Regions from separate parts of the Homo sapiens genome. Here region 2 is linked to region 1. Evidence: fine-mapped expression QTL. A gene starts in region 1. The other region holds a variant in brackets. All regions are shown on one strand. Distances are from middle to middle. Region 1 holds the start of LINC01762 (long intergenic non-protein coding RNA 1762). Region 2 overlaps CD58 (CD58 molecule).

The links. PIP is the estimated chance that this variant, and not a neighbour inherited with it, causes the effect.
Region 2: its variant is fine-mapped to the expression of LINC01762 in whole blood (TOPMed, PIP 0.99).

What each region holds. Positions count from the first base shown.
Region 1 is chr1:116,476,514-116,480,911 of GRCh38, reverse strand. LINC01762 (long intergenic non-protein coding RNA 1762) reads left to right here and starts at 2,086. Exons shown (of 4, transcript NR_125972.1): 1 at 2,086-2,131; 2 at 2,740-2,860. LOC112268235 (a long non-coding RNA gene) reads right to left here and starts at 1,690. Exons shown (of 2, transcript XR_002958352.2): 1 at 1-1,690. RefSeq lists an enhancer at 2,082-2,641.
Region 2 is chr1:116,562,745-116,567,142 of GRCh38, reverse strand. All of the region lies in intron 1 of CD58 (CD58 molecule), which reads left to right. Among named protein-coding and RNA genes, the nearest start is that of MIR548AC, 4.8 kb to the right of the region's middle. The variant G/T (reference allele first, on the strand shown) is at 2,079.

The sequences.
Region 1 (4,398 bases):
AGTCTGGGTTGTACCAATGTCAGTTCCCTGGTTTTGATAATGTATTATAGTCATGCAAGCTGTTACACTGGATTGGCCTAGTGAAGTGTCTGTGGGACTTTCTTGTCAATTTTTGATTGTGGTAAAATATACATAACATAAAATGTACCATTGTAACTATTTTTACAGGCGCAGTTTGTTGGCTTTAAATATATTCACATTATTATGCAACAAACACCACCATCCATCTCCAGAGGACTTTTTATATCTTCCCATACTGAAAGTTCATACCAATGAAACAACTCCTCATTCCCCTCACCTCCCAGCCCCTGACAGACACCATTCAAATTTTCGTCTCTTTGAATTTGACTACTCGTATAAGTGCCTCATCTAAGTGGAATCACAGAGTTTTTATCTTTGTGTAACTGGCTTATTTCTCTTAGCATAGTGTCTTCAGGGTTCATCCATGTCATAGAAACATATCAGAATTTCCTTCCTTTTTAAGGCTGAATACTATTCCATTATCTGTATGTATAGTAGCCCATCCCTGCTTATCCACAATTTTACTTTCCTTAGTTTCAATTACCCACAGTCAACAGCAATACAAAAATATTAAATGAAAAATTCCAGAAATAAACAATTCATACCTTTTGAACTGTGAGTAGTTCTGAGAGGTATAATAAAATCTTGCTGAATCCTGCTAAGGGCATGAACCCTCCCTTTGCCCATCGTGTCCACTCTGTCTACACTCTCCACCCAGTAGTGACTTAATAGCCATCTTTGTTGCCAGGTTGTCTGCCCCAGTATCGCAGTGCTTGTGTTCAAGTAACCCTTATTTTACTTAATAATGGCCCCAAAGCACAAGTGTAGTGATGCTGGCAACTCAAATATACCAAAGAGAAACCATAAAGTGCTTCCTTTAAGTGAAAAGGTGAAAATTCTCGGCTTCAGGAAAGAAAAAAAATGATATGCTGAGGCTGCTAAGATCTATAGTTAGGAATGAATCTTCTATCTGTGAAATTGTGAAGGGAAAAAAGAAATTCGTGCTAGTTTTGCTGTCACACCTCAAACCGCAAGTTACGACCACAATACTGGTAAGTGTTTAGTTAAGCTGGAAAAGGCGTTAAATTGTAGGTGGAATATGTGAACAGAAATGTGTTCCCACTGACAGCAGTTGGGTTCGGTACTATCCACAGTTTCAGGTATCCACTGGGGGATCCTGGAATGTATCCCCCCAGGATAAGGGGGGACCACTGTACCACATTTATCCATTTATCCATCGATGGACATTTGAGTTGTTTCCACCTTTTAGCAACCTTCTGTGGATTTATAATTCTTTGAAAATAAAATGTTAAAAAATACAATCAGAAATGAAATCTATGAATTGGCTCACTCTTTCACCTACTGAGTATGTAAACTAGTGTTTGTTGTTGACCTGTTGACTTTTGTACAGTTCCCATCACAGAGACGATTTAAGCTTGGTAGGCCATATAGAACCTGATTTTTTCTTTCCTGCTTTTAAAGAAGCAACACGTATGATTGTTCAGAGGATAGTATGTGATATTCAGTGAGCTTTAATTAACCTGGCCCATGACACTATATACATGCTTAGATCAAGAAATAAGAAAGGAAATTCAGAGGTCTCTTGCACTGACAGGTGATTTCAGGAGAGACAATGACATTAACATTGAGCCAGCTCCTGACTATACAGAATATGAAGCCATTCTTTTTTTTTTTTTGAGATGGAGTCTCACTCTGTCACCAGGCTGCAGTGCAATGGCGCGATCTTGGCTCACTGCAACCTCTGCCTCCTGGGTTCAAGTGATTCTCCTGCCTCAGCCTCCCGAGTAGCTGGGACTACAGGCGTGTGCCACTATGCCTGACTAATTTTTGTACTTTTAGAAGAGACGGGGTTTCACCATGTTGGCCAGGATTTCTAATGCAACCAGGTAAAAGTAATTAGCAGGAGAGGGGAATGCTTGGCTTTGGAGGACTCATTTGCATTGCAAAGTATTTCCCATTGGTGGCTTGGCCAGGCATTCCTTTGTCCAGCCGTGTAATGGTCTCAAGACTGCGGAGCATGTTCACGCACAGCATGGACACCACTTCATGTAGGGGCACTGGACTGCCTAGAGTTGGAGGAAGGGACCCTGTGAGTAAGCATGACCTCATCCTGGGAGCTGCATGGCGGTGGGCCTGCAGGTGGGGAGGAGAGGGTGGGCGCTCACAGGGCAAGACAGAGGCTCAGCAAACAGAATGTGTATTGTGGCTGACGCCATTGTCATCTTTCCAAACTTGTTTCTGAAAGGCATCACATGGAGAGGGGATGCTGACAGGGATGACACAGTCCCAGCTCCAGAAACACCGTCAGCTGAACCCAGGGTTTTTTCATTTTTGTGTTTTCTCATGGAGGTTTAGGGGCTTAGTAAACCCCTTTATGTGTATTTTTTTTCTAGGGATAAACCCCATACCTTTCCTCAAATCTTCAAGGTCCATGACCTCCCGACATGTAGAACCTTATGCTAATAACTGCTCCTGGGAGACCTCTCCTCAGGAACTGACTTGACCCACCTTCCTACCAATGTGGCAGGAGGAAGTCCCTAAATGTGCTCGAGCCTGTTTGATCCAACCCCTGTGGGAGTCCGTGTTCCTCTCTCCCCACTTTGCCCTGTCCTTCCCTTGTTCTTCTCTTCCTTCCCTGTCCTTCTTTGGCTTTGCTACCTCTCTTCCCTTCCCATTGTTTTTCCTCCCCCCTCCTAGGTTCTCACATCGCTTTCCTGTTTCCCTCTCCTGCAATATGGATTTGACATATTAATCATTACAGCAACTGCTAAAATTCCACTGTGCTTCATTAATCCGGAGGAAAATACCATGTCAGCTGGTAAGTGCTGTAGGGTATGCTCATATGTTTTTCCTGGGGTCCATGGTAGTGGAAATTTCTCCATTTCTATGAGTAACAAAACAGGAGGCCATATGGAAGGCCACGGTGAGCACGGGTGGTGGATGGACACAGGGAGGGTGGGAATGTGGGTGGGCACCAGTCCCTGAAGGCATTAAGTCACCCATCACGGACCCTGACAGACCCTGGGCTGTTCAAGGACTCTAGTCAGAGAGGTTGAGTTGTAAAATCCTATTATGGTTGCCAAGACCAGAACAGTGTGACTTTAATAAGGTTAAAGTTTGGCATTTTTACAGCTTTCATTATGATAAGGTTTTCAGTCACATGACGGGGAAAGAGCTAGAGAGGGTCCATCCAAACACAGCCGGTCAGACCTCAAGGTCTCCTGCCAGCTCCCCAGGGGTTCCTCATGCTGCAGGGCCGGCTTTCTAGCTGCAGTTTCTGCCCTGCTGGTGGAGAAAGCCTGCTCCTATCTTTGGCCTCTGGGACTAATTGGGGAAATGAATTCAGGCAGCTATTTTCAGACAGAAAGAGCCCTTGGCTGACTTAGAAGCAAATGCCCCATTCTTTGGCCAAAGGTGTCACCCTGACCTTGGTCAGCAATCAAGCCACCAGCTACAGTGAGAGCAGAGGAGACTGTTCTCCTCCCAAAGAACTGAGGGGGTTCCATGCTTTGGTTAATACCCTCCAGCCTAGAATACATACTCTATTGTCCATCTGGATTTGTCCATCCTTCAAACATCTGCTCCTCTGGGAGGCCTTTCCTGATTTCATCCTCCCTTCCTGGCCCCAGGAAGAATTCATCCCTTCTCACTCCCATGGAGCTTAGGCCATACTTCTCAAGCAGCAGCTATTTCAGTGCCATGAGTTCCTTGAGAAAGTGCCTTCAGCCCCACTAGACCCGTAGCTCTCCATTTACGATTCACCTGTGCCTAGTTTTTCTTTGAATACTCAGCCCATAGTACAGTGCCTAACACACAGTAGGTGCCCATAAATGTTGACTGAGAGAAAAATTTAGCTGAAGGCACATCCCTTACACTGGGAAGAAGGCTTAAATGTCATGTCCTCCATGCTTGGATCATCTTTGCCCATGAAGAACAGGAGAAGGTATAATTTCGAAATAGGTTACTAGTTTCTCAAAGTTGGAATTTGCATGGGTTCCTGTATCTATAGCATCTACCATCATGTGTCCACTAGTGTAAATTTCAAATGCATTAATGGTCTCATCTATATCCATTGTGTCATAATGTCGACTCATTTAGAAAATTCTTTATTCAAACTGGACAATTCAAATCAACACCATCAATTATATAACTACCCTGTGTCACAGCCAGCACTAGGCCATTCAGAAATACAGAATTAAGAAGTCCCTGTCCAAAGGAGTAGAGTCTAGTCGCCAAAGAGATATAGTCAAGTGTTAAGTGCATATGAGGTCATGGTTTGCATGCTGGCTGTGTGCTGTCATGCAGGCACACAAAGATAAGGGCACAGCATGTTCCCTTGAGAAGTTTATGGTCCAG
Region 2 (4,398 bases), 86 kb before region 1:
TTTGAGACACAGTCTCACTCTGTTGCCCAGGCTAGAGTATAGTGACACAATTATGGCTCACTGCAGCCTTGATCTCCCAGACTCAAGCGATCCTCCCACCTCAGTTTCCAAATAGCTGGGACTACAGGGACATGCCTTCACGTCCACCTAATTTTTTTGTATTTTTTATAGAGACGGGGTTTTGCCATGTTGCCCAGGCTGGTCTTGAACTCCTGGGCTCAAGCAATCCTCCCAAGTCAGTTTCCCAAAGTGTCGGGATTATAGGCATGAGCCACCCAGCAATTTTCTCTTCTGTTTCTCTCTATATATATATTTATTAGTTTACATTGTTCAGTAATGGATAGCTTTTGCACACACATCCTCCCTTTTTTTCTTTTATTTTAGAAGGTTATGTGGACTCATGGATTCTTTTTTAAATATGGCATTCCTGTCATCCATTTTGATGCTCGGCAACCCCACATTTGACAAGTGGGAACACCTTCAAGCTTCAGAGTCCTTTTGCTCTGTTTGTTCCTGTTTGATTTTAAACACTTCCTTACTTTCTGGCACAGAAAGATGTTCTGGACTCATCTTGTAGTGTTCCTGCCTCAGCCTTCGAATCATTAGGTTCCCTGGTTTCTTTTAGTGAGAGATGGTATTTAGAAATCAAGTTCTGGGTGCAAAGTGTGCCCACAGGTACCAGAGTCATTGCTTCTCAGCCTTGTCAGTTTTCAAAGTTAAGAAATAGAGTTTTTACAAAGTCAGGAGTTCACCCTGATACTTCTAACACTAATAATCTTGCTGCTTAGTTCTTCTGCCTCTTCTGCTCTTCCATATTTGCATCTCCTTACTCCCACAGTGAGAACTCTGTTCTTAGTAGCATCAGTATATTTTCCTAATCTACATTAAACCCCAAATCATTTTACAGTTGCTATACCAATCTACTACCAACTACAAACTTACTAAATACAGTTAAAGATTTCTTTACAGTTCCTTTTATTTTTCATTACAGTCTCCAACTTAGCAATGGTTCGACTTAAGATTTTTCAACTCTACAATGAGTTTTTCAAGATATAACTCCATAATAAGAAATATCTGTATATCCCAGTGAATATGCAATACTATATTCAAAAGTTACTTGGATTCTGGCCGGGTGCAGTGACTCATGACTGTAATCCCAGCACTTTGGGAGGCCAAGGCGGGCGGATCACAAGGTCAGGAGATTGAGACCATCCTGGCTAACGCAGTGAAACCCTGTCTCTACTAAAACAAAAAATTAGCTGGGCATGGTGGCACACGCCTGTAATTCCAGCTACCTAGGAGGCTGAGGCAGGAGAATGGCCTGAACCAGGAGGCAGAGACTGCAGTGAGCCAAGATTACAACACTGCACTCCAGCCTGGGTGACGGAGTGAGACTCTGTCTCAAAAAAAAAAAACAAAAAAACAAAACAAAACAAAAAAAAGTTATTTGGATTCTTTTTTTTTTTTCTAACTACCCTTCTTAAACAAGGTAACACTCTATGTATTTTTTTGTATCTCATTTTTGTCACTTAACCATACATCTGGAAAATCATTCCCTATCACTTCATAGAGATCCACCTCATTCTTTTTCACAGCTGTACAGTCCCTCATAGGGTGGCTATATGGTAGTTCATTCAGCTACCCTCTGCTGGTTAGTATTACATAGTGTGGTCAGGGAGGGTCTCTTTAATAGGGTGACAATTGATCATACACTTAAGGAAGTGAGAGATAGGCCACAAGGCTATCTGGGGGAGTGATATTCCAGGTCTACTACTCAGGACCCTGAGATAGGCTTCAAGCGTTTAAGAAACTTCAAGGATACCATTGTGGTGGAGAGTGGTAGAAAATGAAGTTATAAAAGTAGTCAGGGTTGGATCCTGTAGATAAAGTTTTTAGGGCCTTTTAAATATTTTGGCCTTTTTGCTTTCAGTGACTGGAAAGTTTTGAAGGATTTTGAACAGGAGTGAAATTATGATGACTTGGATGTTTAAAAGAATTATTCTGGCTGCTGGATGAATAGTCTGTAGAGGAGAGAAAAGGAAGAGCAGGGAGGTTGGTTAGGCTGCAGGGGCAATGCA[G/T]GAAAGGAATCACTGGGGGTGGGAGATATCTGGATGTGTTTTGAAGGTGGAGCTGGCAGGATTTGGTGTGGGCTTGCATTAGTGGAATGACATGTGGATAGGGCCTGGATAGTGCTGGGCAAGTAGCAAGAACTCAAAAGTATGAACTTGGCTGAGAGTGGTGGTGCATGCCTGTAATCCTAGCACTGAGAGGCTGAGGTGGGCAGATCTTTTGAGCCCAGGAGTTCGAGACCATCCTAAGCAACATGCTGAAACCCCATGATATGGTTTGGCTCTGTGTTCCCACCCAAATCTTACGTTGAATTGTAATAATCCCCATATGTCAAGGGCAGGGCTAGGTGGAGATAATTGAATCATAAGGGCAGTTTCCCCCATACTGTTCTCAGATAGTGAATAAGTCTCACAATATTTGATGATTTTATAAATGGGGATTCCCCTGCACAAGCTCTCTCTTGCCTACTGCCATGTAAGATGTGCCTTACTTCTCCTTTGCATTCTGCCATGATTGTGGGGCCTCCCTGGCCAGGTGGAACTGTGAGTTCATTGAACTTCTTTCCTTTATAAATTACCCAGTCTTGGGTATGTCTTTATTAGCAGCATGAGAATGGACTAATATAGTAAATTGGTACTGGGTAGTGGGGCACTGCTGCAAAGATACCTGAAAATGTGGAAGCAACTTTGGAACTGGGTAACAGGCAGGGATTGGAATAGTTTGGAAGACTCAGAAGAAGACAGGAAGATGTGGGAAAGTTTGGAACTTCCTAGAGACTTGTTGAATGGCTTTGACCAAATGCTGCTCATCTCAGATGGAGATGAGGAACAATTGTTGGGAACTGGAATAAAGGTGACTCTTAATATGTTTTAGCAAAGAGACTGGCAGCATTTTGCCTGTGCCCTAAAGATACGTGGAACTTTGAACTTGAGAGAAATTATTTAGGGCATCTGGTGGAAGAAATTTCTAAGCAGCAAAGCATTCAAGAGGTGGCTTGGTTGCTGTTAAAAGCATTCAGTTTTATATGTTCACAAAGATGTGGTTTGGAATTGGAACTTATGTTTAAAAGGATAGCAGGGCATAAAAGTTCAAAAAATTTGCAGCCCAATGATGCAATAGAAAAGAAAAACCCCTTTTCTGAGGAAAAATTCAAGCCAGCTGCAGAAATTTGCATTAAGTAATGAGGAGCCAAATGTTAATCACGAAGACAATGGGGAAAATGTCTCCAGGGCATATCAGAAACCTTCATGGCAGCCCCTCCTATCACAGGCCTGGAGGCCTTGGAGGGAAAAATTGTTTCATGGGCTGGACCCAGGGCCCCCCTGCTCTTTGCAGCCTCCAAACATGGAGCCCTGCATGCCAGCTGTTTTAGCTCCAGCCATGGCTAAAAGGGGCCAACATACCACTCAGGCTGTTGCTTCAGAGGGTAAGCCTTGGTGGCTTACATGTGGTGTTGGGCCTGTGGATGCACAGAAGTCAAGAATTGAGGTTTGAGAACCTCTGCCTAGATTTCAGAGGATGTATGGAAATGCCTGGATGTCCAGGCAGAAGTTTGCTGCAGGAGTGGGACCCTCATGGAGAACCTCTGCTAGGGCAGTGTGGAAGGGAAATGTGGAGTTGGAGCCCCCACACAGAGTCCCCACTGGGGCACCGCCTAGTGGAGCTGTGAGAAGAGGGCCATCATCCACCAGACCCCGGAATGGTAGATCCACCGAGAGCTTGCACCGTGTACCTGGAAAAGCCACAGACACTTAATGCCAGCTCATGAAAGCAGCCAGGAGGATGGCTGTACCCTGCAAAGCCACAGGGGAAGAGCTGCCCAAGGTTGTGGGAGCCCATCTCTTGCGTCACCTGGATGTGAGGCATGGAGTCAAAGGAGATCATTTTGGAACTTTAAGGTTTAAGACTGCCCTATTGGATTTAGGACTTGCATGGGGCCTGTAGCCCTTTTGTTTTGGACAATTTCTCCCATTTGGAATGGATATATTTACTCAGCACCTGTACCCCCATTGTATCTAGGAAGTAACTAACTTGCCTTTGATTTTACAGGCTCATAGGTGGAAGGTACTTGCCTTATCTCCGATGAGACTTTGGATTTAGACTTTTGGATTAATGCTGGAATAAGTTAAGATTTTGAGGGACTGTTGGAAGGGCATTATTGTGTTTTGAAATGTGAGGACATGAGATTTGGGAGGGGCCGGGGTGGAATGATATGGTTTGGCTGTGTCCCCACCCAAATCTCACCTTGAATTGTAATAATCCCCGTGTGTCAAGGGCAGGGCCAGGTGGAGATAATTGAATCATGAGGGCAGTTTCCTCTATACTGTT